Linked DNA regions of Homo sapiens: region 2 is linked to region 1. Evidence: fine-mapped expression QTL. A gene starts in region 1. The other region holds a variant in brackets. All regions are shown on one strand. Distances are between the middles of the regions.

Region 1 (15,907 bases):
TATTTTCTGTATTTAGAAAAATGTTTTTTATTTCAAAGAGCCTCTCAAAGAGCATTTCACGTATCTTTTACTGTTTTTCTCTCCACCTCCAAGGGGTCTGTCTAGATCAGTGCTGTTCAACAGAATTATATGTAAGTCATAAAGGAGAGCTACCTACATAAAATTTTGTAGCAGCCACGTTAAAAACTGGTAAGAGATTAGATTAATTTCAATTAACTTAGGCCAATATATTTTAGGAACTATCACTTCAATAAGTAGTCAACAGAAAAAAATTGATCAGATACCGTACTTTACTTTTCAATTCGATTAAAAAGTAAAAAATCTCATGTGTATTTTATACTTCACATTTTGATTCAGACGAGCCACATTTCAAATGCTCAATACAGTACATGGCTACCATATTTTTTAAACAGCACAGGTCTGGACAAAAATTTCTCCCAGTCCTACCTTAATTACTAAGTAACCTGAAAATGCTTTTAAACACATAATTTCTTAGAAGTTCCTTCTATAAAAGGAATCTCTTAAATGAGTATCACGAGAAACTTCACAAGAACTTAAAATGCCTTGTTTATAATTTCTAAAAATTAGATAAATGAAAGGCAGCAAAAAGTTACTAAAAGTTAAAGTCAGCAGGCCAGGCGTAGGCTCACACCTGTAATCCCAGCACTTTGGGAGGCTGAGACAGATGGATCACGAGCTCAGGAGTTCGAGATCAGTCTGACCAACATGGTGAAACCCCATCTCCACTAAAAATACAAAAACTAGCTGGGCGTGGTGACACGCGCCTGTAATCCCACCTACTCAGGAGGCTGAGGCAGGAGAATCGCTTTAACCCGGGAGGCGGAGGTTGCAGTGAGCCGAGATCGCGCCACTGCACTCTAGCCTGGGTAACAGAGCGAGACTCTATCTCAAAAAAAAAAAAAAAAAAAAAAAAAGTTAAGGATGGCAGATTAGAAAGTTAAAGTCGATCTTAATAAAACAAGGGAAAGGGAACAGAAAGGAAAGAGTGTCATCATCTGAAGGTTCATAAAGAATACTTGAATTACATTTTTAAAACTCAAAAATACATAAACTTAGGCACACTTTACCCTCTTATATGTCTCTTGAGATTTTCCTTTTAAAAACTCCCCCCTTAAAAAGTGATCCGAATTCTCTTAAAGAACATACCTGATTTTTGGCTGCAACTCCGATTGTTCTATTTTTTGATCCAAATGATATGACTGACCTAGAAAAAAATATATTCCAAAAAATTAAAAAGCATAAAGGTTGATATTTTAAACTGATAAGAGAAAAATACTAACATAAATGTCCTACCCATTAGGGGATAGGGAACAAGCATAGCACAATTTTAAGGTCTATAGCTTTCATCAGATACTCAAAGGGGGCTTCCACTTAATTGCTGCTCTGAGATCCAACCTAGGTGGCAGTTCTACTACCCCAAAAACCTCTGCTCGTGGCTCAGGAATTCTCCAGGTTCCAGTTATTATGAACCGAACATTAACTTTGAAAATGTTTTAAATATGTTAACGGTATTATTAATTTGACCCTACACACGACTAACAAAAAATAGGATGTGACTCTACCTTTCAGTCACCAACTCTGTACAAATCTAAATGTCATTGTCATACCGACTTTTGTTCTGATATACCACCGGCTTCTTTAGGAATCAAAAGTTTTTATGCAAACGCAAGCAAATGAACCCAAGTTACACCTCTGAAGTTTAAAGAGCACAAAGAGGTTCCCATCTGGGAGATTCTGCCGGAGAAAGAAAAAAATGATGCACAACAAGTACCATGGCAAAACAGAATATAAATGTCGAGGGAAAGGAGTGACTAATCAGTTACATCAAATCTGTTTTGAAGAGATGGAAAGTGACTTACAACTGTGAAACAACCTTCTCAGCCACCATGGAAATGGAACCGCACAATAACAGAGCAGAGACTAGCTTAAAAAGTCTTGTGAGAAGAAGGTAAGTGAATTAGGTTTTGGATTAGAGGAGTTATCTAATTCTGGATTACTAATTCAAATATAATCTAATTTTGGGTGAGTTACTCCTACCTGCTTAGGTATGAGTAATGGTAAACGAGATGAGCAAAACGGGAAAATACTGAGGGCATTAAGTACCACCCTTAAGTTTAAATTTGCTATAATAGAAACATCCTCAAACTATATTATCTGAGCAAGTGTTAAATAAAATAGCATCCTAAAAGCCAGAGAAGTGTCCAAGCAGAAGCTAGACAAGAAACCGTCAAAATCAGAGCATCACTGTAAGCTCTGAATAACCATACACTTGCAGAATGGATCTACTCATTTTCCTAGGGGAGAATCAAATTAATTGTACTAAATAACAATTAGTAGCTGATACAATAGAATCCACCACAATTATAGTTTAACAAACATATTAAGGGGAACTCCAATACTGCCCTCAGTTCACATTTTTCAGGGCCATACCTGTTGTCTTTGATTTCACACAGTAGTCCCTGTATAACACAATTTTTTTTCCCACTCTCTTCTCTGAAAAGCTTTTCTTTGTTTTATTGGATCAACCAGAACAAAGTATAAACTGTATCTAGGCATGAAAGCCTGAAATACTGTTTTCTTTCTTACTAAACTCCAATTAAAAAAACCTTAACCAAAACACAAACTTAGATCTGCAGGGGTAGACGTACAGGTTGCTCAGAACAGTCTTCCTAACGTTACTAACATTGCCAAATATTTTGCCTCAGATTTTCCACTCAACTTTCATAAACGTTCTCAGCACCCAAATAATTGTATTACCCCAGTCATTCATTCTACCTTTAGGTTCAATGTTTTCATTTTGCACTTTTCATCCTGAGCTTGGGACATTTGAAAAAAATTAATAGGTACAGTATTTTCCTTGAGATGAAATCATTTGTTTTCATCAATGCACATGCAGATATGTTTGTATATATTCTCGTCCGAAAATATCCCTTCACGAAACTTGCTTTTTAAAATGTTGCCCTTTGCCCACCCTATGCTCCTATAGAATATTTAGTTCAGTGACGACATCCATCCTCTTTTGGCGTCCTAGCACAAAAGTATGCAATTTTTATTCTCTTTTAAATAAACTGTGCAAAATTAATTTTAAAAATACGGTTTACAATTCCTCATGAATGGCAAAGAGCAAAAAAAAAGACGTTTACATCTTTCGACAATGATCCCGGGCATTAAGGCCAACAATGTTAGCAACGAAGAGACTGGGTAAAAAGAGGTGGGCTAATCTTTCATAGGACTGCTTCCGTGGTCGCTAACAACAATCCGCCTGCTCACTGGACAAGCAGCGACACAAGCTCTGGAAGCTTCCAGTTCATTTCGAGATTCACAATGCGGAAGAAAAAGGCCGGCAGCCCCGCTCCGCGGTGCGCAAAGATATGCGCGAAGGGAGGAGGACAAGCTGGAGGCGGCTCAGCCAGCTCAGAGAGGCCGGGTGGGGATACGGGGGCGGCCGCGGAAGGCGCAGGCTGCAGCCTGCCAAGAAAAGGGAGCGAAGTTGCGGGCTTTGCCGCAGCCCGACCCCCAGTAGGTTTTGAAAACCCCCAATAGGAAGCCCGCACAAGGTGACGACCCTTAGAGTCTCGACTCTGGGACTCCTCTCACCCCCGTGAATCCCTGAGACAATCCCTTCTCCAATTTGTGATGGCAAGCCCCCCATCCCTCCTCTGGCCGGGTCGCTGGTCCCTAGTTCCACGGAGGGGTGCGCCGCTGCCCAAACGCCTCCGTTTGCCGCGGTGATCCGTACAGCCAGCCCGCGATCTTGGGTCCCCACACTAAGGGCCCAGAACCTCCTCCCATCCACCCTCGCAGACTCCCACTTACGGGGTGCACCGGTCGCTGAACTCATTGGCGATGGTCTCGATGCCCCCGGCCCGGGCTACCGCGATGTAGCAGCTCTGCGAGCCCACGTCCAACCCCACCACCGACATGGCCGGCTCGCGGTCCGCCTCCGCCTCGGGTCTCGGTCTGCGTCCTCCGGCCCCCTGCCTGCTTCTCCTGCCGCCGCTTTCTGCCCTGGCCGCGTTCTGCTCCGGCCCGCGGGGTCTGGCCGTTCCTCTGACACTCAGAAGGACACACAGACAGCCGCGGCCTGTCAGGAGCCTCCTACTCCCCCGGGGACAGCGGCGGCTGGCTGATAAGAAACCCTGGGAGAAAGCGGGGCTCAGCCTCCGCAGGTCGCTCCGCACCTCGGGTTGCCTGCCTCACTCTGCCGCGGCTCGCACACCGGCGCCGGCGCTGAACTACCGACCCAAAAGGGGAGGTCCCACTTCCTCAGCCTTATGTATCGCACTGATCAGAACTTTCCAGAATCTGCGGCATTTACTCACCGGCGCCTCCACCGGCCCCTCCACGTGCCACTTCCGCTTCCTTCTTCTCGAGCCTTCTGGAAAGATTCTACCCAATGGGCAGCCGGTCCCCGGAGAACGGCCGCCGTTGCCATGGCAGCGACAGGGCCGCTCCCGTGCCATTGGCTCAAACCTGCCTCCGCCCACTCCCGCCCTAGCCACAGGCGTTTTGCTGCCCTAATAAAACAGGCAACGAAGAATGACTCCAAAACTCGGAATAGTCACAATTTACTACCGGGAGGTGGTGTCCGATCCTTAACGCTAAAGGGAGGCTGGGCGGGCGGAGACAGACCCCATTTTTGCAGAGACCCCAGACACCGGGATGGTGGGGAGGCCGGCCAGCTGTCCGGAGAGCATGTTGGGAATCGTAGTCCCGCTGGGAGAAGTGTGCGCCTTGCATGCTGGGATGTGTAGTCCTGGCCGCAGTGCTTGCTGGGACCCGGCTTTGTCTTCTGGGACTCGCGAGAGAGGCTGGGTAGGGTTTTGTCTGGCGCTTTTGCGCGGGTTCCCTGGCAATAAGCGTCATTTTGTTCGTTTGTTTTGTATTCACTTCTATTATTGTCTGGATTACCCCGACAACTGGTGCGTTACGACTTAGGAGAAGGAACACCAGTTCAAACCGCTTATAATAAAAGCAAAGGGGTTGTGTTAAGTGTTCTTGTATTCATCAGGCAGCAGGATGATCTCTTGTGGAGTAAAATGTCAGGTGTTTTTTTTTTTAAGAAATCGATTTTTAGTTGTGACGTCATTTGGCAGGCTGTCCACGGTATCACTTTCTGCTTATTTTTAAAAGGTCTGATTTAAGCCGACGCTGTTCTACCCTGCCACTCCTAGCCATAAATTGGTACTGTGTGTAAGTTTTGCTTTTTGTTTGATCTGAAGCAGCTTTTGTTTCTTTCCCTCAGAAGCGATGTCCCCGTTAACTTTTGTTCAGTAAAGAGACAGTGTAAGAAAAGGTGGAACTGTGTTGCTGATAACTTATCAGGTCTTTTATACCCTTTTGTGTCTTTTTAAGTTTGCTTCTGATCCCTGAGTTTACCTTATGTCAGGCATGTGGAAGTATAAGCACAGTTCAAATATGTTATTGGATAAGCGTGTAATTGAATAAGGAGTTGTAACCTAAAGTTAGAAAAATCTAACTCATAAAGAGTATGGGAATTCCTCCTTGTCTATCAAAACAAGTTGGTTAAGTCAGAGGCAAGACGAAAGGCCCAGGTTTACATTACATGTAAATTGTATGTGCTTTTGCTAGTTTTCCTGCCACTTAGGTGGCTTACTTAACATGCTTCAGTTAACTCACCTTTAAAATGGGAGCAATAATAGTTATCACGGGGTTGTTGTGTTCTTACATTTGGACATATAGTTAGCTGTAACTATAAGTTATTTTTGTTATGCATCCCAAAAACTTGGTTTCTGTCCCCACCCCCCGCCCACCAACTTTTTCTTACATATCAAAACCTTATAATAAAATCCATGGAGACATAGCAATTTTGAACAGAAAGAACCTTTGAGATTATTTGGTCTGCTTCCCACATTTTAACTGCCGTACGAAGAGGAGACATGAACAGTTCTCAGTCTTTGGAGCCAGACAGATTTGGGTCAGGTTCAAATCCTTGGCACTCTACTAAGATGTTTTATATAAAGTACAGCTTGTAAGGGCACCAGGCCTCCTGGAGTCAGACATCATGGGCTTGAATCCTAGCTATTCTTATTTGTGAGCTGTGTGATGTTGCGATAATTACTAAGCCTTTCTGTATTCCATCTCATGGTGTTTATGTAATGATGGAAACTATATGTAAAGCACTAAACATATATAAACATAAACATATAAAGTCTGTCATCTTTGTCAAATTCCTCTTTGCCCTCTGTTTCCTCGACTGTAAAATGGAAGTAATACCTATTTTTGCTAGGATTTTGGAAGGATTAGATATAAATAAAACATGGTATGGTGGTATTTGATAAATTGTAGTAATAGAAGTAATATCATTCAGTGAAAGTCAGTACAAACTTTAATCTTGTACTGCTGTGGATGTGTTGTGTAGTCATGGTGTAGCCCCCTTTTATTTAATCGATTTGCCTTAATTATTCAGCACAACAGGTAAGTGATAAGAGGTTGTAAAATCTACCATATTTATTATCTAATTGAAATTCTTAGCTGGGCCAGGCATGGCGGCTCACATCTGTAATCCCAGCACTTTGGGAGGCCAAGGCAGGAGGATCACCTGAGCCCAGGAGTTTGAGGCTGCAGTGAACTATGATCACTCCACTGCACTGCAGCCTGGGCAACAGAACAAGAGTCTGTCTCTAAAAATAAAAAAATAATTCCTAGCTAGGTGCAGTGGCTCATGCCTCTAGTACCAGCTACATGGGAGGCTGAGGCATGTGGGTTGCTTCAGCCCAGGAGTTGAAGTCCTGCCCAGGCAATATAGCAAGACTATTAAAAAAATTCACTTTTAACACTTTATTATATTTTATTACTTTATATGTTTATATATTTTATTACATGTAGAATTTATCACACTTACTGTTGTAATGTCAGAAATTTTAAAATGAGACTTGGACCAAATAATGACAATCCCTACAAATCCTTGTTATGTAATTATGAATCCAATTATTAGGTTTCATTCCATATTTGTTTTAGAGAATAAGAAGGACCTCAAAATTGGAAGCAGAAACAGACCACTTCCAAAGAACAATAAAACAAAAATGCAAAATTAAGAAAAGCCCAAACAAAAATGCCATTCAAAGAGATAATATGCAGTAGATATAAAAAACTATGCCAGGCTTCCTTGAAAGGAGGAAGAGATGGGCAAAGGAGGGGATATGCAGATAGAGTAATATACATGAAAGTGCATATGACTTTGAATTTCTGGTATCAACCAGTATGGCAGTCTTCTCTATAACCAGCATAATGCCAGGGTCTGGAGGGTTACAGAAGTAGTATAAAACTTGTTCTAAATCAAGATGTGTTTTGTCACTTCTCTGCAATGCTGGGGCATCATGAATACTCAATTATCTGAAATCTTGTCCGTTTGAACCTTTTTCAATATTTGCTTACCAAAAGATTTTTGTTTTCTTCTTATATATTAACCTGAAAATGTATCTTTTAAACCTTAATTGGTTCTGCTAAAACCTATTTTGTCCTTATTTTAAGTTATAATAGAATGATCATCTAAAAATAGGAATGCATGGGGAAATCACGCAGGGAGCAGAGACTTATAAAAAGGTACACCTAGAAATAAGGTAAGTATGTTTTGTCTGGTAGGACATGGAAAAGATATGTAAAATGATGTTTCTTTTAGCCTAAAAAGGATCATATTTTGTAATAAATGTGGCAGACAAAAACTCAATGTGTAGGAAAATGTTCATGTCTGCCCCCAAACTCACTGTGAGCCACTTTGCCACTGGAACACCGTGCTCAGGCACACTGGCCCCCTACCCCACATCAAGGTGTTCCTTTATTCCCCTGCCTAGAAAATTCTTCCTCAGGCTCCTGGCTAGGCCAGTTCCTCATCCTTCAAGGCTCTATTGAATTCTTCACCATCTGTAGAGAAGGTTTCTGAATGCCCACCCAGTAAGCACATTACCCTTCCCCAAAGTACACCCAGTTCTTGTCCAGTTAAGGAGAAGCTGGTGCCAGCCCGAATGCGGAGGGTGGTCACTGTTTGGCTTAGGCCAATCAGCACATCCTATTCCCCTTGGCCACAGTCGTTGGTTCCAGGATGGTCAGGTGACCTAGGCAGCCCAATCAGGGTGACTTTCAGGGCTATGGTTTAGAATGCCTGGGTATGAGGGTATTTCTCTGCCCCTTTCCATCCCTTTCCTTCCACTCCCTCCATCTTCTTCTTCCTCCAGGCGCTGTTGTGTGAGGTTATGAGGCCCAGAACCATTACAACAACCTTACTATCATCCTGAAAAGGAAATGACACATGGAAGTGGATAGAACTAAGAAAATTAAGTTGGAGCCTAGGGCTGAAGTCAGTCTTGAGACCCACCCTACCTCTAGATTTAAGTTATGCCAGCCATACATTTCCTCACCACTTAAGCCAACTTGAATTGGGGTTTCTGTTACTTGCTACCCAAAGCAAGTAACCTCCTCAGGAAGGTCTTTCATGACCATATTACCTAAAGCACCTCCTGGTTCACTCTCTGTTGTTATCCACTGATTTCCTTCACAACATGTACCACACTCTATACTACAACATATAGCTGCAGTGATCTTGGGGTGTGTGTGTGTGTGTGTGTGTGTGTGTGTGTTAGGTACTTCCCTTCTTTGATTGTCTGACCCAGAGGGCAGTGATTGTTTTTCTTCTTTATAGTGCATTATAGATGCTCAATCAATATTTGTTGAATAGTTGAATGAAAAAACAAACTTATTGGGAAATGCTTTTCTCTAATGCAGAGTTTCTCAGCCTTGGCACTGTTGACATTTTGGGCTGGATAGTCATCGTGTGGGCTGTCCTGCACCCTGAATAATTAACTGCATCCATGGCCACATCCTACTAGTTGCCAGCAGCAGTGTCCTGCTCTTCCTCCCGCACCCCCCACACCCCCACCACCTCACCCCTGGCCCAATTGCAACAACCGAAAATGTCTCCAGACATTGCCGAATGTCACCAATGGACAAAGTTGTCCCTGGTTAAGAGCAGTAGCTTTGATTTAAGCCTAATACAAAAAGGGCAGAGTCTCAGAATGTGTTTGAAAGAAAATAGAGCACTGTTTGATTTCTGAGCCACAGAGGCTAAGAGATGGGAGAACGGTAACCCAGATCTGAATGAGTCAGACAACTCCAACCTGTATTAGGTTACAAGAGGAGGGACACATCTCTCATTTGGCTACGAGACATGCCTGCTGTTGTACAAATGTGCACTGCCTATTCCAAGAAGGTAATATTGAACTGTGGTTGAAAGTATTTTTGTGATTATCAATTACTTCCTTCAGAAAGGTACATACAATTCACTGTTTTCCTTTGCCTTGGGTTTTTTTGTTTTTTTTTTCTGAGACAGAGGCTTGTTCTGTCACCCAGGCTGGAGTGCAGTGGTGCAATCTCAGCTCACTGGAATGTCCGCCTCCTGGGTTCAAGCGATTCTCCTGCCTCAGCCTCCTGAATAACTGGGATTACAGGCGCCTGCCACCGCACCTGGCTAATTTTTGTATTTTTAGTAGAAACAGGGGTTTCACCATCTTGACCAGGTTGGTCTTGAACGCCTGACCTCGTGATCCACCTGCCTCGGCCTCCCAAAGTGGTGGGATTACAGGTGTGAGCCACAGTGCCCAGCCACCTTGGCTTCTTTACTTATGAAATAATAATTAGAATGCCCACATAGTGACTGAAAATTATTAATTAATTCTTACATTCATGGTTACCTTAGTCATTCTATCATAGAAAGGAGAAAGAAAGTTAATATTTGGATAACCAGAATCATTGTTGCCCTACATAATATTCTGATTTTCCACCCTGAAAACTAAATTTATATACCAGAAATAGATTCCTCTTTTCTTCTTTCTTTTGTTTCTTCAGGCATGTGTGAAAAGAAGGAAAGGAAGGAAGAGTTAGTATCCTGTGTCTCTTCTATTCCAAATTATGATGAGGTCAGTTCAAAGTCCTTGTACATAAAGATGAGTCATTTCAGTACAGACTCTTTAGGTTTGCTGTGTTGAAAAAAAGCACCTTCATTTTGGTGGGAAAATAACTACAAATTGTTGGTGTATTTTTCTGTGTGTCAGAGGATTCTGAAACCAGGATGTGTCTGAGCTCTTGAGACATATTACAGATGCCCTCATGGGGTAGCTCATTAAGCTGTTGGAACCAAGGGTGCATTCAGTTCCCCTAAACTAATTAATAATCCACTAGGGAGGGTGGGAGTGGTAGAATAAAAAACATTTTGGGTACCTGTTTTTATTGAGCAAGTCATACTGTTCTTACCTCATTTGTGCCAAGTGAAATGAAATTCCTCCTTCCGGACACTTCGGAAGAACTCACTATCTGATTGCAAAGTTACATCTTGGCAAGGATGTATATAACCACTTGTCTAATGGTGGATGACTAGAATAATGTGGAAAGGAGAGACACAACTCAAAGCCATACAAATTACGGTTGCTTTATTTAATTCCTTGGCATCAATGGGAAAACAGCAAAAAGGGAATTTCTTGCCTATTCTGAAGGATGAGGCACTCAAATTATTCTACATGCCTTTCAGCTGCTTTCCACACCAGCAAACATGAGGTTAAAATATATTGAGAGGAAGGAATAAAGCATTGGAGAAGATGAGACTTCCTAGAAAAAAATTCAGTTACTCTTAGAAAGCTAATATTGCTGGCCAACAACACTGAAACCAGCTTTTTAAATTCTGAAATGTAAATTAGACCCAAAGAGTCTGTACTGAAATGACTCATCTTTATGTACAAGGACTTTGAATCGACCTCATCATAATTTGGAATAGAAAAGATACAGGATACTAACTATTCCTTCCTTTCTTTCTTTCTTTTCACATGTGCCTGAAGAAACGGTTACAATTCTGTTTTTCCTGAGGAAGTGTGTAATTTGTTACTTTCATTAAAGAAGCCCATTCTCCATAAATACGTTAGTCCACCTTATTTCCTGCTTACAAAGGCTCTCTTAGCCTTTCACCATTTAACAACTCTTTTTATATTTTGACAATATAAATGTTTTCCCCTTTGTCTCTGAAAAGAGGGAACAGGGTCAGCCCAAGACAAAAAGGCAGGAGAGTGTCTTGAGCTCCTTGTCCCTGCCATGTCTCCAGCCTCTGTCTCTCCCAGGCCCAGGCAGATAACCCGCCGGCTGGTGCCTCCCAACTCCCAAAGCTCCTTTCGCCTGGGTTCTGGTGTGCCATCCATGCTTACGCATCTCTCTGTGCCCAGTGCCCTGCACTAAGCCAGGTGTGTAGCCGGCCCTCACGCTGTTAGCTGCTGTTAAATGCCAGCACTCCGCCCCACCCAACTCTGTTGTGGCTCCTCCGACTGCCAGCACGGCTACGTCATCAAACAGGTGCTCCCAATCATTCCCGGTCATATGAAAAAACCAAGTCACATAGATTTAAGTTTCCACTCCCAGAATGGAGATATTTTTATTAAATAAGTTCCACTTAAATAAAACCAGTTTCCCTAGTTGGTTATATTAAAGGCTGCATAGGAAGATATCCAAGGGGCAGTCTAGGCATGGTGGCTCATACCTGTAATCCCAGCACTTTGGGAGGCCGAGGCAGACAGATCATGAGGTCAAGAGATCAAGACCATTCTGTCCAACACGGTGAAACCCCGTCTCTACTAAAAATACAAAAATTAGCTGGGCGTGGTGGCACACACCTGTAATCCCAGCTACTCAGGAGGCTGAGGCAGGAGAATCGCTTGAATCCGAAAGGCGGAGGTTGCAGTGAGCCGAGATTGTGCCACTGCACTCCAGCCTGGCAACAGAGCAAGACTCTGTCTCAAAAAAAAAAAAAAAGAAAAAAGAAGATAGCCAAGGGGCATATGGCTCTGTAGGACTCTGCCTTATATTACCGTGGTCAGACTGGCTGGGTGCATAAGAATCTTTGTGGCTCCCTCCCAACAGCTCCCCACTGCCCCCTCGACCCCGCAACTCCATTCCTCTTGAGAAGAAAGGGGAGTACTGCTCCGCGCTCCCTGCTCTGCTCAGCTGCCTCTGATTTCTGTCTGAGTTGTTCAAACTTTAGGGCTTGTTTATTGATTCCCCCAAGGGCTGTGAGCTCCCGAAGACTGTCCTTTCTCTTTTTATTTATAGGCCTTTGTTGAATGAATCAAAAATTGCTCCTTTCCTTTTCCTTCGTTTCTTCCTGCCTTCCTCCCTTTCTCTCTTCATCATTTATTAATCATTCACTGTTGGTCATGTCTCCTAAATGCCCCAGAATGAAAATCCCTGACCTACCTCTGCCAAGGTTTTTTTTTGTTTTTTGTTTTTTGTTTTTTTGTTTGTTTTTTTGTTTTGTTTTGTTTTGTTTTTTAAGATGGAGTCTCATTCTGTCGCCCAGTGGCACAATCTCGGCTCACTGCAACCTCCACCTCCCAGGTTCAAGCGATTCTCCTGCCTCAGCCTCCCAAGTAACTGGGACTATAGGCACGCGCCACCACGCCTGGCTAATTTTTTGTATTTTTAGTAGAGATGGGGTTTCACCATGTTAGCCAGGATGGTCTTGATCTCCTGACCTTGTCATCTGCCTGCCTCAGCCTCCCAAAGTGCTGGATTTCTAGGCGTGAGCCACCATGCCCAGCCCTCTGCCAAGGTTCTTAAGCCATACATGCATGTTCTCTTCCTATCTGATTTCTTTTTGGTCTGCCATGGCTAAGAGGCCTAACCAGCAAGAGGGAGCCAGGCCTTCTTACATCATCAGCTGCAAGAAAGTGAAAAAAGTGTCCTTCCCTGTTTGCTAGAACAAACAACAAACCATTCCTCCTTTTCCCCCACCTGGGACCTGCACTGGCCTTTCCAATGGGGAGGGCAACTCATTAGGAGGAGGAAATCCACTCTAGACTATCGCCTTTGGTGGCAGAGATGAATAACAAAGGTTTTTCTTCTCCTCTGGAGTAATGGAAGCTCGACCCTTACTACTGTGACCTATGGCATGTCCTTGAGGATCACATCTGTCTTTGAATAGACCCAGAACTCTTCCCTGGGGGCAGAGTACCATTGTCTGTTGTTGTGTGTAAGGAGATGTGAGGGTGCTTGGCAGGGATGGTGAGTGGGGACTATAACATTGAGGAATCCTGGGCTGTTCCCAAAGTGAGGCAGGAGAATAGAGTCTGCAGGCAGGGAACCTAAGGCCGATTTAGGCTGACTTCCTAGAACTAAATCAAAAGGAAAACCCCAACTTTGCAAACCCTCCCTCCTTTTCCTGCATAGCAGACAGAAAATTGAAAGTACCTCTGACTGGTTGCTTTCCACAACCAATCAGATGTTTGCATACGAATGTAACTTTGTAACTTTGCTTCAGCCTCTTGATTGCGGACCACTACTTCATTTGCATGGGGTGTAAACCAAGTGGCCAATGGGAAACCTCTAGAGTGTATTTAAACTCCAGAAAATTCTGGAACTGGGGCCTTGATCCCCTATGCTAAGACCCATTCCCACCATGTGGAGTGTACTTTTATTTTCAATAGATCTCTTGTTTTGGTGCTTCATTCTTTCCTTGTTTTGTTTGTGCATTTTGTCCAATTCTTTGTTCAAGATGTCAAAAACCTAGACACTCTCCACCAGTAACAAAAGGAGGAATCCAAGGACCTTATTGGCTTTTTGGAATAGCAGTAGGTCTCCATGATATTAATTAGGATAAAATAAAACCAACATGGCCAAACCTTTATGGTTTTAAATGTCCTTATAGATTACATAATGAAAATACCTATTAGCCTTTGACTTGAAATGTTTTATTCTAGCAAGTCACCTTCGCACTTTCCTCATATAGAGTGATCTGGATGAACTCCTACAATGTGGCAGCCGTTTGCTTTGTGCTGGAGATACCATGACGAACAGCCCACGTTCCTGCCTTCAGGAAACTGAAAGAGAACCAACTCTCAGAACTGCAGCAAGGTTAAGGGCCTTGGCAGCTGTACTGTGCATTTGGTATTATAGTAATAGTCACAAGACAACCCTCTAGACTGTGTGTGGAGTCAGGCAGAGCTGGGTATAAATCCTGGCATCTGCAACCTTTCTCGGGCAAACTGCCTAACTCTTCTAAAATCTTACCAGTAAGATGTGGGTAAGAAATTCTACCTTGGCCAGGTGCGGTGGCTCACGCCTGTAATCCCAGCACTTTGGGAGGCCGAGGCAGGTGGATCACCTGAGGTCAGGAGTTCAACACCAGCCTGGCCAACATGGCGAAACCCTGTCTCTACTAAAAATACAAAAATTAGCTGGGGGTGGTGGCGGGCGCCTGTAATCCCAGCTACTGGGGAGGCTGAGGCAGGAGAATCGCTTGAACCCAGGAGGTGGAGGTTGCAGTGAGCCGAGATCGCGCCACTGTACTCCAGCCTGGGCAACAAGAGTGAGACTCCATCTCGAAAAAAGAAAAAAAAAAAATCCTACCTCATTGTGGTATTGTGGGGACCAATTAATAAAGTAATATCACCTAAGCCAGATGTCTTCCATTAAAAGGGCACACAATAGCTGACAGCTATGGTTGTTATTGCTTTGATTACTAATGCTTGGTTACCTAAGACACTTCCGAGTCACTTCACTCCCTTCATAACCCTCTCCCAGGATTATGAAAGAGAACAGCAAAACTGTTTCCTTATCTTCATCTTTCATATTGTGCTGTTCATATTGCGTGACTGCCTAGATAATTGATAGTCCACAAATTTCAAAAAAACTACATATATCTGTGTGAATATCTTTGCAGATAATTCTAAATCAGAGAATCAGATTTTAGAGGGGAGGTCAAAATACCTCCATTCCATTGTGAAAAATTCATAAGAATATTCTGAATACCACAGATTTAAAATCTATCACTGTCCTAGAAAGGTTAACTTTCTTTTCTTTACCTTTATTTCTATGACATTGTTCTTTTGGCCCTGTCTCCAGTGTTATTTTATAACACGTTATATTTCTGCTTAGTGGATTGCTATAGTGATGTTGGTACATGTTCTAAAGGGATATATAGTATCATGCCCTAAATGGACTAGTCCACGCACCTTTGTTCAGCACTGGAAATTTCCCAAGTCTATTCATTCATCCATTCATGCAACAAATATTTCTGGAATTCCTCCCATGGAAAGCCATCATGTGAAAGTGTTACAGTTGATTCAAGGGTCATTGTCAACAATGAAAAATGTTTGCCTGCCTGCTGGGGCAAGAGACCTAAAGATGTATAATGCAGAAGATGACAAGGAGCTGTAGGGGAAGCCAAGGGCTTAGGGGCCAGAGTGGGCTGTGTTCAGATCTCACCTCTCTCACTTTAACTGTGTGACTCTGGGAAAAAGTTTAAGCTGTCTGAACTTCATCATTTTCATCTTCAAAATGTAGATCTTCCATCATTCATTCAACAACCATGTTGACTTTGTGCTAGGTATATCTCCCTGTCATTGATTTATGCTCTCTTGTTAAATTCTCACTACAGTTCTCTAAGGCATCTAGACAGTAGTTCCTCAACAGGTGCTATTTTATCGACCCCGTACTTTTAATGAACATATCAATTCAATGAACTTTGCACGCCTGCTATGGGCCATACCGTGAGCCAGGAGACATATGGCCTTAAGAAAAAAAAGAGTTAAAAACTGTGCCTCAAGCTTCTCAGTCTGGTTGAGGACACACCCATAAACATAATTATCCAATGGAATCGTTATAATGACAGCTCTGTGAACAGAAAATTTTTGGACACAGCAGTGGGACACGTAGCTCACCTGGGCCAAGGATGTTGGAAGGGGGAATAAGGTGGGTGACGCCTGAGCTAAAGTGAGTAGGATGGAGGAAGAGGACTCCATTTCTCTGCCAGAGTATGCAAATACAGAGGAGACGAACAAATACATATGCGGATTAGGTTAGCGATTCTGAAGTACAAGGCTCAAAATAAGGAATG
Region 2 (15,907 bases), 39 kb before region 1:
TAAGCACACAACTCAATCCCTCACCTGCTGGAGCAGAAGTATACCGGCCACTTTCACCACCTTCCAGGCATTAGTGTTCAGAGGGCTGTGGGCATTTGGCAGGGTGTTGACAGAGAGCCAGCTAATCCATCAACTCACCTAAGACAGTGTCTGCTGCAGCGATCCTTTGAGCAATGGATTCCCTAGAAATAAAATCAACACTTTCCCTGGGCAGCTTGGCTGCGGGACCAAGGACAGAGAGAGAGAACCCAGGAGGGAGGAAGGTGATGGCCCTGTGGTCAGCCCACGCATGTTAGTTCTACAAGATACCTCACGTACATTGTCTTAGTGTGGCCCAATTTCTCAAATAGCACACACCTTATTCAATATCAACAACATGTTGATGATCTTCCACCCAGGGATATCTCACCCATTTAGGTAGGAAATCACTAAATTCCATTGTTAGTTCTCACAACGTCCCTGGAGATGTTCTATTTGTTATCTCCACTTTACAGATGAAGAAACTGAGGCTTAGGGAGGACTTGTAATTTGCCAAACTTAAAACACCAATATGTGGCAAGGCAGGAATAGGATCCCACTTCTCTTTCTGCCACCCCACCGTGATAAGGCCTTGGAGAAGGGCTATTATAGGAGCATACAACGGAAGGGGTGTTGCTTACAAATGCTCCGAACACTTTGAAGATATGGACAATCGGCACATTGCTGTGGAATCAAGCATGTCCTTGCAAACTGCAAGCCAAATGATGGTGCTGGTGTTAACGAACAGACTCGCAGAGGCTGGGTCAGCTTACACAGAAAGAAGGAGAGAGATGGCCGGAGTGAGGTGCTTCCCAGGCTGTGCAGGATGAAGTGAGGCATGGAGAGGCGACTGGAAATCATCTCCAGAGAGGTGGGGCCAGGATGACCCAAGGGGATGTGTGTGGAGAAAAGTGGGTGCAGCCACCTCGAGTGCTCAAAGAGAAGGAGGGACGGATTGAGCAGAGATTGTAGGTCAGGCGAGAGGAACCAGAGAACAGGCAGAAAACAGTGCCACAGAGACCAAATATGCTCCAGGAAAGGGTGGTTGATACCTGGTACCCTCGGTAGATCAAGAGCATTCAGATCTGGTCTCAAGGTTTTTGTTGAAAATTCTTCATGAATATTTTCAAGGAAAGGTTGTTCAACATTTCCCTGTGCGATATTTGGCGGCCACCACTCAGTGCCAGGCGCTGTGCAGTGATACAACCACGGATGGAAAGGAGTCTGTGTCCTGAAGGAGCTCACACATCCCTGGCTGTCCCCTGACAGGATCGGAATGCAAAGCATGGTGGGGGTGCTCACTTGGGAGGTCAGCAGGGTGCCTTCCCAGAGGGAGAGAACTTATGCTGAGACCTGAAAGATGAGTAGGATGTGGCCATCTGAAAGGAAGCCTTAAGAGAAGGAAGAGCTGCTACCATGCGGATGAACCTTGAGGACCTTATGCTAATGAAATGAGCCAGTCACAGAAAGACAAATACTGATTCCACTCGCAGGAGGCACCTGGTGTCTTCCAATTCATAGAGACAGAAAGTAGAATGGTGGTTGCCAGGGGCTGGGGAGAAGGAAATGGGGAATTGTTGTTTCATGGGTGTAGAGTTTCAGTTTTGCAAGATGAAAAGCACTCTGGAGATGGATGGTGGTGGTGGTTGCACAACAATGTGAATGTACTTAATGCTGTGGAATTGTGCACTTAACAGTGGTTAAGATGGTAAATTTATGTTATGTGTGTTTCACCACTTTTTTTTTTTTTTTTGAGACAGAGTCTTGCACTATCACCTGGGCTGGAGCACAGTATTGTGATCTTGGCTCACTGCAACTTCCACCTCCTGGGTTCAAGCAATTCTCCTGCCTCAGCCTTCTGAGTAGCTGGAATTATAGGCACCTGCCACCATGCCCAGCTAATTTTTTGTATTTTTAGTAGGGACAGGGTTTCACCATGTTGGCCAGGCTGGTCTGGAACTCTTGACCTTGTGATTTGCCCACCTTGGCCTCCCAAAGTGCTGGGATTACAGGCATGAACCACCACACCCAGCCATTTTTCCACAATCAAAGAGAGACAGAGAAGAGCCTGAGGCAAGGCCACTAGGCAAGAGAGAGGGGATGTTCTGGATCTGGAAATTTCTAGTAGTTCAATGTGGTTGGCACAGAGCTGGGGGTGGCAGCGGCAAGGACAAGATGATGAAGGGAAAGGGTTTGAGGAGTGGAAGCAGATGGCTTTCCGAGGGGTTTAGACACATCCAGGAGGTAGGAAAGAGTGGGCAACATAGGATCAAGTAGAAGGGATTGACGGAAATATGTTTTTGCTGATGGAAAATGTGCAATGACCATGCTCTACCTGGGGTCTTTGCTTTAAGCAGGGGAAGCAGGGGGCCCTCAGGTGCCCAAGGAATCTGCACCCTGTACTTACCTGGTTATTTCCCACCAGGCTGCTGCTGGGGCAGAGCAAGCCCTCCTGGAGAGCACCTGTGCCAGGGGTGGCCCAGCATTCACCAGACCTTCCAGGGCCACGAGGTCGCCTGCGTGTCAGGTCTCAGGGAGAAGCCAGATTTGTCTGTTACTGGCTCAGACTTGTTTAATTTAAATTTTCTTACACAGGAAGAAGAAGGAAGTGAAGCTGCCCAGAAGGAGTCCTGATCATAAAGCAATTTCCTTGTCTGAGTTCTAAAGAGACCCAGCTGCTATTTTCTTTTCTTGGCAAATTTTTCCCTGTGCAATCAAAAGGTCTGACTGAGATTAAGCTTTGCCAGACAGGAGCAAAGAAGAGCAAAACAAGGAATGATTTCAGCCACCGTGGGCTTCTTCCCAAAACAATTAGAGCTTGAATTTAAGTGAACAAATCAGATTTGAGGTTTTTCTTCCTTGGAGGCCGTTTCATTGAGCAAAGAGCACAGGGCTGATGAGCTGAGCCGATGGCTCCCCAAGCAGCTCTGCCACAGATCGAAATGCCACCTACAGCATCTGCCTATAGGTGGGCTGAGGACAGTGGGAGAGAACCATGAGGCTGTTGGTGAAAAACACTGGCAGATTTAAACATTAACTTTGTGCCAGGCAGGCCTTGCTTCAGAGCTTAGATGTATTTGCATTTATTCCTAATAACATCTTTGGGAATAGATACTGTTATCATCTCATTTTACCAACCAGGAAACTGAGGCTCCCAGAAGTTAAGTGACTCACCAATGGTTAACAATGAAATGACCCAGGAGAATCTAGAGCCCGCGCTCTTAACTACCAGACTCCAGAGTTGAAGGAAATCGGCTCTGGGAATAAAATTAGGAGGCCAGTTGCCCTCTTCTTCCCAAGGATGGCCCCAGAGCAGCCACTTTAAAGCTGTAAGTGAGCAACCTCAGAAAGAATAATAGTGTGGCTGCCAGTTCCCAAGCACACAGTGTGCTGATCTCTTCACCAACATTGTGGAATCCTCACCGCAGCCTAGAAAGGGAACATCCAGTTTTACAGATGAGAAAGCTGGTCCTCAGAGAGATGAAGGTTTTGCCCAAAGTCACACAAACAAAAAAATTCACAATCCAAACCTTTGTTTGTTCCCAAACATTGAGCTGTCAACCTCCACCTATAATTCAAAGCCATCACTTTGCAAATGGAGACCGCAAGGGGCAGAGAGCCCCTAACTGCAAAGCTAGGCAATCTCTTGGGCCCTCCTCCAGTCCAACACTTGCCAGTACCCGCTCCCCACTCTCAGGTCCACCCATGACCTGTACCCCTCCTGGAGCAGGGCAAGGGGACCCCTGTCCTGGCCATGCGCCTACCTAACCACACCTCCTTCTCCAGGTCGTGGAACCGGGAAATCCCATGCCCAGACCACCCCAAGTCCATGTTCAGAACCTGCACGGCCTCCTCCCACATCCATCAGTCCCAAGAAGGGCCACACAGTCCCAGGCCCAGAGAAGTGGTTAAGGGGCCAGGGTTTGTTGGGGTGCGGACTTATACTGGACATGTTAGCTGGGGTGGGGGTATTCATGCATATGCACATTAAAGCCTCCACAGTGCAGAAAGAAGCTGGGGTGGAGGGAGAAGGAGGAAAGTAAGAGGCTGAGAGCCAGGGGCTGGCTCTCCCTGCATTGCTGCAATTGCCATGGAACTATGAGGACCCCGAGAATTCGACATCCACACTGGCCATCTGGGGCCTCAGGGAGCTGACAGTGTAGGAAGACAGAACATTCAGCATCTGCTAAATGTTGACCTAAGAGTTTCTCAACTTTCTCCTAGGACCATGGGAAAAACCATCACCAGGGACGTGAAAACCTCATCAGGACGGTCTTTCCATCTCGTGCCCCTGTGTGGTGCTCTCTCATGCAACCTCTCTCTCTGTAGACCAGGTCTCCCCACACTTCAGGAAGCATGGCCACAGCAGCTGCCAGGTTTCACTGGCAGCTTTTGCTCCACAGAGAGACTGATTTTTGACTTCTCTTGGGTTCCAAGTCCCAAATTGAAGCTTGCTGGCATATCTCTGGTCAGTGCTCACTTTGACCCAGCCAACTGAGGGCTGTGGGCTGGTCCCTCAAAAAATGGTTGCCCGATGGAGCCCCAGGGATGAGGAAGCCCAGCCATTACTGGGAGAGGAGGAGGATTCTGGGGCACAGACAATATGTGCGTGTCTCATGCATCTCCTGAGGCTAGACAGTTGGTTGCCATTGCCACGAGACTATCAGACTATGCCTGTCTGCCTTCCTGCCTGACTTCTTTTTTCTCTCTCTCTTTTCCTCTCCCTCCTTTTCTTCCTTCCTTCCCTCCTTTCCTTCCTTCCTTCCTTACTTCCTTCCCTCCTCCCTTCTTTTCTTCCTCCTTCCCTTCTTTCCTCCTTTGCCTTCTCCCTTCCCTCCTACCTTCCTTTCTCCTTCCTGATCTGGATTTGAATTCTGAGTTTTCTCTTTCCCAAGCTCTAGAGGCATAGAGGAGACCAGGTCCCAGCTCTGCCATGCTTGCTGATGGGTCTGGGCATCTTTCTTTCTCCCCTGAGTCTTTATTTCCTCAGCTGTTAGTGGGGGGCATTTCAGCTCCTCCCCCAGTTTTTCCCCCTCTGTTGCTGAGCCTTTGAGCCTCCTAAACAATCAGTCTCAGTAGTCCAGACCCCTTTTTCCAAGCTGCTTTTTATAAACCTTTCAATGGTGGATTTCTCTCGCTGCTCAACGAAGTGTTCCTTTTTCATCCTTGATTTTGGACCGCAGCATTTCGAGTTCAATCTCGGGGTCATGGCCTGTCTACTCAGTACTATTTTAAGTTGAGAGATCTGCGTTGATGCTGTTTCTCTGAGAGCAATGTTCCCTCCATTAACTAATCCCTCGAGGAAATAATGCCATTATATGAAGCCAGCAGTGTTCAAAACAAAACCCACCTCTATAAATCATGCCAAGCAGGGTTCCAGATACCTCCAGGTGCAGCTTCCAATTGGTCTGACCTGGATGGGAGGAAATGGAACCGAGAAGTGACACATCTGACTTCTTCCTGACCCAGCTCCTCTTTCTGCCCCCTTCTCACTCCCTCCTGCCTCTGCAGCCAGCATCCTGCTTTCCCATCTCCCTCGCGTCCATCACAGCAGGGGCAGGGACAAGTGTAACGATTACTCTCGGTTCCCTGCATTAAAGTGGGGGCATGTCAGGCAGGGGAGTGGTTCCCTGAAGAAATGAGTTTGGGAAATGCTGGATTAAAGACAGTTCAATGGGTCTGTTAACCTCAGTACTTTTCTGAGCTCTTAATGTTTTCAAGTGCCTGGTAAATCCCCAGGAAAGGAACAGTTTCCCAAACTTACAAGGAGCCCCTTATTCAAGCTGTGTTTTGTGGGATGAGTGTTCCAAGCAATATCCTTTGAGAAATGCTGTCTGAACTGCAACTCATCTGCATTAAGGCACTCCTCCATTCAGCCTCTTATACATTGTTTTCTATCTAATCGTCAACTTATTTTGCTTTGACATTGCTGAAGAGCTTCCACATCTCATCTTTCAATTCTCCCTCCCAACAATCCTGTGAGACAAATGCTGTTCCTCAGAATTTGCAGATGAGAAACTGGAGCTCAAAGGAGTCTCCTTTTCCCAGTTCTCACCTCCAGGAAGCCCAGAACCTGGCTGAGCAAATGTGATGACTACTGGTGAACATATGAGGAAACTGAGGCACAGAGAGGTAAGCTGTTTCAGTTTGCTAGCAAGCCTGGGACCGATGTTTCTGGCTTCCTGGATCTGTCATCTTTCACTTTCCATAAAGAAAAGCATGAGGCTTGTCAGCCAGCAGGCAGGGAGGATGGGAATGGGATGTCGTCAGAAGAGGGGACCAGATGGGATTCAGCATGCTGATGGCTGGCATTGGAGCAGGGGTCCCAGGAGAGTCTGAATATGCCCTACCATTAACCCCTTCTCCTGGTGAGATCCCAGAGGAAGACATGCAACGAGGAACAATGGAAAATGGAGCCAAGGCACCATTTTATTGTGAGCTGGGACACCTGGTAGTCCCCTAAAGCTGGAGGTTATCTTGGGCTCAGAGCCTGGGCAGGGTCTTTCCCTCCTCTTCACCCAAATCTACAAGAGGCTGAAGACCCTGGTATGAGTGACCCCACCCACTGGTAAATGAAGTCTAGTCAGGATCCTGGTCTCTAATCAGTTGTACTCGAGGAATGGAGCTGCCTTCTCTCCTCCTGTCTAGGACAACTCAAAGTAGCACCACTTGTCCAACTCTCAAGCAAATGTTTGTTTGCTTTTCTAGGATGCTTTGGTAGAAGGTAGGGGACCATCAAGGAGGGACCATGCTCCTCACCCCCTACTAACAGCTGAGGAAATAAAGGGGAGAAAGAAAGATGTCCAGACCCATCAGCAAACATGGCAGAGCTGGGACCTGGTCTCCTCTACCCCTCTGGAGCTTGGGAAAGAGAAAACTCAGAATTCAAATCCAGGCAGGAGGGAGTGGGAAGGGGGCAGAAAGAGGAGCTGGGTCAGGAAAAAGTCAGATGTATCACTACTTGGCTCCAGTGCTCAGAGGAGCCTGGCTACAGCTCCTAGAAGCTTGGTCAGGTCCTTCTGTTATCAGCACAGGGGATAGGATCATTCTTCTCAACCCTGGAGGCCAGTCTGTCTCATCTTAACCGTGACTACTCCCCCTCGCTCAGACTCTCTTCCACCTCCTGTTCCTCATCCCACCCCCTCCTTTCAGGAGCTAAGGTTAAGTCTGGGCCTGCCTTCCCCTTGCCATCAGTCCCAAGATCCCAAAGACTCTATTTTGTGGCTTAGATGCTAGTCTGAAATAACTTGGCTGGTATGACATATTGTACCTTCCCCTGCCTCTCATCTTGAAGCACACCCTCCTGTCTCCCTTTTCATTTCTGCCCTTGGTGGAGATTCTCATGCAAAGGTGTCATTTTTGTGCACCTTTATTATCAACAGAGGTATGATTGAAGGCTTACAAATTTAATCGCTGGTTGGATGTTCCTGGACAATGACAAAGCAAGCACATCTTGTCCAGGAGATTCCTCTCTGGTGAAACATGGGAAAACTTTGCAAGAAAGATTTAGGCAATGTTTTTTCTCATCCATTTGGGAATTCCATAGCGTGCTGAGTAACGGCCACCCAAAGATCCAAGTTCTAGTCCCTGGAACCCATGAATATGACCTCATTTGGAAAGGGGTTTTGCAGCTGTGATTTAGGATTTGGGATGGGGAGATTACCCTGGATTTCCTGGGCGAGCCCTAAATGTCATAAGTGTCCTTACAAGAGAGAGGCAAAAGGACGTAAAAGAAATACATGTGGAAAAGTAATGGAAAGAAGAAATAAAGGGATGTGGCCACAAGCCATGCAATGCAGGGCAGCACCAGAAGCTAGAAGAGGCAAGGAC[G/A]GATTCTCCTCTAGACCCCTCGAAGGAGCACGGTCCTGCTGACACCTTGGCTTCAGACTTCTGGCCTCCAGAATTGAGAGAGAATAAATGTGGGTTGTTTCAAGCCACTCAGTCTGTGGTCATTAGTTATGGCAGCCCTAGAAAGATGACACTAAGACTTCTGGAATGGAGCACAGTTTTCTTTGGAATATGGAATCTGGCCAGTGCTTATCCATCAATTATTTCATTTGCTCATTTAGTTCACATTTCACTTATGTTTCAGGCTCTGTGCTAAGCTCTGGGGACACAAATAGGACTAAGAACCTATTCTTGTCTCCAGGAACACACAGTCTAGCAGCAGAGAGAGTTACAAACACATTATAAAGTAATGATTTAAATACAATAGGAGAGACACAAAGAGATCTCCATAGAGGGGTTGGGGACCAACTGGAACATTGTCAGGAGGTCTGGCCAGGGATTCCTAGGGAGGGAGAGGCCTGAGCAGCAGGAAGATGGACAGGTGAAGGCTGGTGGAGGGTGGGGTTGAGGGGTATGTGTGGTGCAGTGTGCCTGTGTGTGTGTGTGTGTGTGTGTGCATGCATATGCATGGGGTATGTGTGATGCAGTGTGTATGTGTTAGAGAGAGAGCATATGCACATGTATGTACACCTGAGGGTGGGAGGTTGGGTGGGTTTGAGCAGGGCTGCCATGGCCAGGGATATAGGATTTGGGGGTACATGGTGTCCCTTGGGAGTAACCCCTTCCTCCTTGAAGCCATGGTCCTGCCCCAACATCTCTACCACCTCTGAGGAAGGGCTAATCACCATTTTTAGGGACACTTTTCAACCAGTGCAGGACCTCCCCAACAACCACAGAGGATAGTTTCAGACTGAGGACTGCTCTTCCTTGGTTGCCAAAACTAGCTGTGATGCCCCCACCTCTCTTCCTAAAAGCAAGAGATTTATGAGCTTATGTAGGAAAGATGCACTATGTTAGAAATCTGAGCTCTGCACATGTCACTCCTGGGTAGGTCTCAATGACCTTAGAGCCCCTGGCCTGCAGACCTGCTTTCATGGGCCAGGGGGAGCCCCCAGACCAGTGTGTGCCCTCCAGTCCCCACCGCCATGAAACAAAGAGTCTGCCATGGATGGCAGTCTACATTGGGCCAACGTAGACTCCTATTTCCAAGCCTATTATCTCAAAAAGTCTTTGTGTCAGGCAATTTTTTAACTTCTGTGAGGAATGGTTTTATAGTTCATTATTGGCTAAAACTCTGAGGAGCATGGGAAGGGGGAGAGACTGAGTGAGTGGCTGCAGTTGATATCTCCAAGAGGTTCCTGATATGGTTTGGCTGTGTCTCCACCCAAATCTCATCTTGAATTGTAGCTCCCATAATTCCCGCATGTCATGGGAGGGAGCCAGTGGGAGATAATTGAATCATGGGGTCAGATCTTTCCCATGCTGTTCTCATGATAGTGAATACGTCTCATGAAATCTGATGGTTTTATAAATGGGAGTTCCCCTGCACAAGCTCTCTCTTGTCTTCCACCCTGTAAGACATGCCTCTGCTCCTCCTTTGCCTTCCACCATAATTGTGAGGGCTCCCCAGCCATGTGGAACTGTGAGTCCATTACACCTCTTTTTATTTATAAATTACCCAGTCTCGGGTATGTCTTTATTGGCAGCATAAGAACAGACTAATCCAGGTCCCAAGTAGGAAATGGGCAGAGGGGAATGGGCTAGCACTGGGTGAGGCCAGATGGACAGAAGGGAGAATCCAGGACACCCTGTGGGTTCTTTCCATTTCGATGGTGGCTGAAACAGGTGCCTCTGACTTCCAGACCCTGTTGATTCAGTGGGACCAAAGACAAGCATATGAAGACCATGATAAGTTGAACAAGGAGAGAACCATCTTCCTCTGACACCACAGCATTCATCACCCAAACTCCACCCCAGACTCTTGTGGAATGCATTTATTGTTCCAGTTTCCCACTCAATTTTCTAATTTTACACATGGGAGAGCATTCTCCAAATGCAATGTCCTTTGCTTCCTCACACTCATTCAGCTGCAACTGCTCTCAGAAAACGCCAGTTAACTCTGTGCTTCAGTCTAGTGCACATTCTGGTCTTCATCTCCTTTGGCCACTTTGTAGCACTCGTCCCTCTCCATCCCTTCCTCCTTTTTCTCCCTTGGCTTCTGTGACCTCTACCACCTGTTTCCTTCCAGCTCTCCCACCACTGTTTCCTCAGATGCCTTTCTTCTGCCCTGATTCTTAACATAGGCCTCCTGAGGGTTTCTGTTTTGAACCTCAATTCTTTGACAAATCCTGACTGAGCATCTACTAAATGCAAACCCTGTGCTAGGCACTTGGGCTATTAAAAAATGAATAGAACTGAGCCTCTTCCCTCTCACATGTGTAGATGAGGCTAAAAGCTCAGTAGAGGAGGGTGCGTATGACTCAGGTGCATGGGGGGCACACACAGGACAAAAATCCTTCACTTGGACTGCGTGCACAGCTGGCTTGTGTGTCTGCACCGAGAGCCCGGCTGTCCACTACGACTGCAGTCTGTATTTCAGCTCTGCTTTCTACCGAGTTCCACACCCGGGAGACTCTGCTCACTGGCTGGCTGTTGGCTCTGCACACACCTCAAATTCAACATGTGTCACGGTAAACCTGGCTCTCCCTCACCTTCTTCTCTGGCTCTCTCTCTGCGTGTTCTCCTTCAAGGAAGGGCACCGTTTTTCACCTTGAAAAGAGAGACTAAAGTCAGAGAGACCTGGGAGTCAGCCTGGACTCCCCACTCCCTCTCCCCGATTCAGAGCCACACAATAGCAGGGCAGGAGGCGCCATGCACAACACAGATGAGGACATCAGCGCCTGGGGGTTGGAGGATGAGCTTTCTGGGCAAACTGTGAGGGCCAAAGAGCCCTGCTCAGAGCAACGGCTTGGTGAATTGCTCAGGTTACTAGGCATGATTCCCAGTGGTGGGAAAGGAGTAACGAGTCCCTGCTTCCCTCCTTGGGAGCTGGGAGGTTCTCAGCATCTTGGGCCACCCTCACTTTGTGCAACCTCAGGGTCTGCTGCTTACACATGAGGTCCTAATGCCTATGGACTCAGCACTGAAGAAACATTTCCTGGCCAGTCTCCTCTGTGCCATGTTGGGAGAATGCACATGCCCTGGGATGCAGGGGAGAACGGGAAAAACTAGGTTACGTGCCGGGCAGATGTGCAGCTGGGTCTGCCCAGCATCCTCCATTCTCCTGGAAGCAGCATCCCACTTGCTTTGATAAATATTCTTCCCTCTACCTACTCATGGTTAGAATGGCAGCAGTCATGTTCTTGCAGAGCTCACTCTGGGCACAGTTTCGTCCCTGGGAGGGATGGAAATTTCCCCCTGGGACTTCTTGCCCCTGGGAGGTGTGTTAGTGGTGTCTGCTGGGGACTGCTGTTGCAGCTATGCTTCCCAACCTCCCCTAGAAGCAAGTTATCAGCAAGGATAGTGGAGAGGATTCCCAGTGTTCCAAAAGCCCGGCTGCCCTGAGTTATGCACAGACTGGTTAGTCAATGCTTGCTTTCACTACCTGCCATCCTTCTGCTTATAAATCCCCTTTGAACCAAAGTACTTTTAGGTGGGTTTGTGACATTTTACAACTGAATGGCCTAACTGGTACAGTGAAGGTGATGCCCCTTCTCCGAGGCCCAGGGCTAACACCTGTAGGGAGGAATTCCAGATGGGCAGGCAGGCACTCATGAGGAGTGTGACCAGAACACACCAGCTGTGTGTGGAAAATACATCAACCCACCTGTGTGCAGAACACACAGTATATGTGCCATAAACACATGAAAGCCATAGCAACTGTAGAGTCAATATCTGCTATTCTAGATTTTATTCTTGTGGCTGTGAAGCAGTGGGAACTGTTTATTCCTGGACTTGTATCACCCAATCATGGAGGAACAGTTATGACTCTGATCACTAGAACACTCCAGTAGTTTGTTAAGGTTAGGTCAACAAATACATTCAATATAATTTATGGCAACCTTTTGGTTGATGGGCCACATTTAATAATGCTTTTTGACATAAGTGGATACAAGTAATGCCTAAAAACAACTATCAAAGAAGCATTGTCTAATTCCTCTAACAAAGTAATCCTTTGGATAACATGCTTATGTATAGTAGCTATAAAATCTCCAAAATTCTCAAACAAAATTTACATCATTTTAAAAGTGTTGAGCTGATCATCGTTACCAAATAAAGTATATAATCTTTGTATCCTGGATCCAAAAATACAGTTGTAAAGGACATTTTTGATGGACAACTGGACCTGGAAATACTATTGTGTCAATGAGATTTCTTGGGTTTGATGATGGCCTGTGGTTCAGGAGAAGGTCCCTGTCTCAAGAAGGCACATGGTGAGAAGTGTCACAGTAACTGGTCACATGTTCACTGTGCTATTCTTTCAACTTTTCTAAATCATGGGAGCATTTTTTTTAAATGCTAGTCTGGTATTTGTCATTGTTAGAAGGGAAAGGGGTATTATTAAAAGACTTGAGAGATTTTATTAGGAAACCAAACAGCTTACACACCCTGGCAATAGTTTACATCTCTGGGACTGGGAAAATATTGTCCTCTGCTTATGGACTGTAAAGTCACAATTCTCCAGAGACACTTTTGGCACCCTTCGGCTTTTGAACGCCCCCAAACACTCAGACATGGGCAGTCAAGAGGAGCCACAGGCACCTCAGCAATCATAAAGACTCTTGGGTTCCTGCTAAACGCACAGCAGCCTCCTGGTTCACCAAGCAGGAAGAAAGCCATGCTCTGACTCCCTGGCAATGTCTACTTAAAAAGCCACACTTTCACAGAAACCACGAAGGGGGTAAATAAAACATCAGTGTGTTTGTGTGCAACGGTGGCAATGAGAAGTAAAAAGTGAACGCTGATATCGGAGAAGAAAGCTAACACTGAAGAGGTAGACGAGGGAGCACCTCCCCAGCCAACATAACTTGTAGAACTTCCTGGGTGTCCACCCTGTGCCAAGATCACTCAACACATCATGTGCACAAATTCCTTTAATCTTCAACAACCACCTTGTGGAGGCAGAAACTGAGTTTACAGAGGAAACCAGCTGGAGAGGTTAATGCCAAGGCCATATGGATTGTGAAAAGTGCAACCAGAATGTAAACCCAAGTGTTTGACTTAAAAGCCAAACAACCACTTACACTTTCCAGTACTCCTTCCCTGCTCAGCTGGGCCAGTACTGAGTGCAAGAAGGGGTTGTTTCCCAATTCTCCATGCTTTTCTGTATTTTATTAATAATAAGAGCCAGAAGCAAAAAGGAACACATTGATAGGAAACCCCTGGGATTGTGTATGTGTCCACGCGGGGGACGATGTACGTGTCTGTGCAGAGGATGTTGGGGGGTGAGGGGTGGTGGTGATGCAGGGAAGCAGCCCCTGAAAGCACCAGTCCAACAGTGAACTACAGCAAGATACTCAGCTGCCTTCATTCACTCGGCTACAGAGAGGCTTATTCTCAGTGGGACTCAAAGCTTCAGTGATTAATGCAGAAGTCAGTTAAACATGTACAAAACCTATAGAAAGGTGCAGAAAGCCATTTTGCATCAATCCCAAAATTCCTCCTGTGAGAAGCGGGAGAGGTATAGGGAAGTTGGGTATATGTAAGTGATACTTGAACATCTATAGCCAATGTGAAAAGGATAATTACAGAAAAAATGTAAATGGATGAGTCTATCATCCGTTTATCTACAGAATAGATCATCAGTGCTTTGAAAAGGAAACTTCAAATTCTTAGCACTGAGACATCAGTTATCAAACAGGACACCCCACATACAGTCAACAGCCCTGTGGTTGTCATTGGACTCACCTGGGAAGCTTTTAAAATCCTGATGCCCAGGTCCCATCCCAGACCAATTACATCAATCTCTGAGAGTATGTGTCAGTATTTTGTACAATTAGCCCCTGAGAAATTCTAATATGCAACCAGGGTTAAAAGTCAGTTTCTAGTCCAATGCTCAATGAAAAGGTATGCTTTGTTGTTTGTTTCTTTTTTTAATGAACAATTGCAATTGTCTAAGCCAGTATCTCTCAAACATTTTGGGACACGATCTTCAGTAAGCCTGGACCTAATTTATGCCAAACAGATAAAAGCATCAAGAAACAATCCTTGGCTGGGCGTGGTGGCTTATGCCTGTAATCCCAGCACTTTGGGAGTCCAAGGCGGGCGGATCACTTGAGGTCAGGAGTTTGAGACCAGCCTGGCCTCATACGTCTTTTAGTAGACACATGGTGAAACTCTGTCTCTACTAAAAATACATAAATTAGCCAGACGTGCTGGTGCATGCCTGTGATCCCAGCTACTCAGGAGGCTGGGGCAGAATCGCTTGAACCTGGGAGGCGGAGACTGCAGTGAGACGAGATCGTGCTATTGCACTCCAGCCCAGGCGACAAGAGCAAGACTCCGTCTCAAAAAAACAGAAAACAAAAACACCAATCCTCACCTTAACTCCTTATGATGCATTGATATTTTGTTTCATTAAATTTTTTCTTTTTTTAAAAAAAAATACTGGTCTCGATCGGCTTTACAAAACACTGGACTAAGAATCTGCATTTTGTAAAGAAAAGCTTCAGTGTTTCATATAAACATGGGTTTAGAAAACCGGATACAGCCTGGTGAAAAAACAGCAAATCTTAACATGGTTGGATTTTATGGCTAATTTCAGGGAAGAGATTTTGAGTCCTCCCACGGAGTTTTCAATGACGATACAAGTGCATTTTCACAGTGCTAGTCAACTTTCATCCCTGGCTATGTGCATGCCGACTTTGATCGCTCCGCCACCGGAGAGAACATGGGCCTTACAGTTAGATCTAAGTTCTAATTAACATATATTTTAGCTTGGTCAGAGCGTCACCCCATTTTCCCACCTGTAAAATGGGGGAAACAATGCAACAATGCCTTTCTGAGAAGATCGTTGTGAAGCCTGAGTGAAGACACCTGGCACAGTGCCGGATTGCTTAAAGATACTCAGAAAGGGCCATTTTACTTCCTTCTCTTTGAGTGTTATTTTGAAGTTCAAAGTCACTTTCCCTGTAACTGAAGGACAAGGGACATTGTTGGTTGTCACAACTGGGGTAGAGAGGTGCTACTGACATTTGATGGGTAGAAGCTAGGGATGCTGTTAAACATCCTACAAGGCACAGGACAGCCCCCACAATTGATTAGCCGGCCCCAAATGTTAATATGCCAAAGTTGAGAAACCCAGCACTAGAGGAATCCACCATGGCAGAGACTGGCCCTGTCAAGGTTATATAGATTTGGATGAGGAAATGGGGATTCACAGAAATTGGGTTAATTACCTAAAAACCATAGCACTTAAGGGGCCAGCATGAACTCTTGAACATGAAACAAAATCTTTTCCAACCCCAAAAGATCTTTCCACTATACCATACTGCCTGCCACCTGCCCTGAAGCAGTATAAGAACTGTCAACAGGCCCATGCTATGCAGTTCTAAGAAAACTAAACCACAAGTGACTGAAAAGCTGTTATCCTAGAGCTTTCAAGTATGCTCCCGTTCTTATTTCCAAATCACATGCTAATATGAACTAAAAGACAACTAGTTTCGACTAGTTGTCTTTTAGGAAGTCTCTAAGGCTAACAAACTAGACCAATACAAGAAAACCATAGCACACATGCCAGAGCAAATAGGGGAACACTTCTCATCATTCTGCCCACTTAGAAGAGCTTAACCGTACCAAAATTACTCAGTACTTGGAGAAAGTCAACCTCTCTCCAAATATTTGTATAGACTCCATCTTCCCAGAAAAGCTGATGTCATTGTTTTGTGCTATGAAAACTATGATAGATGGCAAGAGATATTACTCCACAACAATCAAAACACCACAGGCAAAATAGAAGTCTGGATATAAATTGACAAGTGGTAATGTAGAAAAAAAGTATCTTGAATGCTGCTTACAAACGCAAGTCATTAATCACAGTAGCTAAAGATTTTAGCCCTTCAGAAACTAACTTCCAATAGGCTATTTTGTAGAGGCAGGTTAC

Which allele goes with the higher level. Positions count from the first base shown, and alleles are read on the strand shown. Sizes are in standard deviations (SD) of each study's normalised expression.
For the expression in thyroid of the gene that starts at base 4,266 in region 1, allele A in region 2 goes with a higher level than allele G (small effect, 0.16 SD a copy in GTEx).

The links. PIP is the estimated chance that this variant, and not a neighbour inherited with it, causes the effect. A credible set is the group of variants that fine-mapping cannot tell apart.
Region 2: its variant is the best candidate, but not a certain one, in a credible set for the expression of HSPH1 in thyroid (GTEx, PIP 0.67).

The regions. Positions count from the first base shown.
Region 1 is chr13:31,157,639-31,173,545 of GRCh38, forward strand. HSPH1 (heat shock protein family H (Hsp110) member 1) reads right to left here and starts at 4,266. Exons shown (of 18, transcript NM_006644.4): 1 at 3,838-4,266; 2 at 1,168-1,225. The coding sequence starts at 3,944. It overlaps LOC105370148 (a long non-coding RNA gene), which reads left to right and starts at 5,022. Exons shown (of 3, transcript XR_941825.3): 1 at 5,022-6,459; 2 at 7,516-7,604; 3 at 13,799-14,131. RefSeq lists enhancers at 3,360-3,905, 3,906-4,451, 4,063-4,142, 4,273-4,392, 4,623-4,892.
Region 2 is chr13:31,118,938-31,134,844 of GRCh38, forward strand. No RefSeq gene overlaps it. Among named protein-coding and RNA genes, the nearest start is that of HSPH1, 35 kb to the right of the region's middle. The variant G/A (reference allele first, on the strand shown) is at 7,849.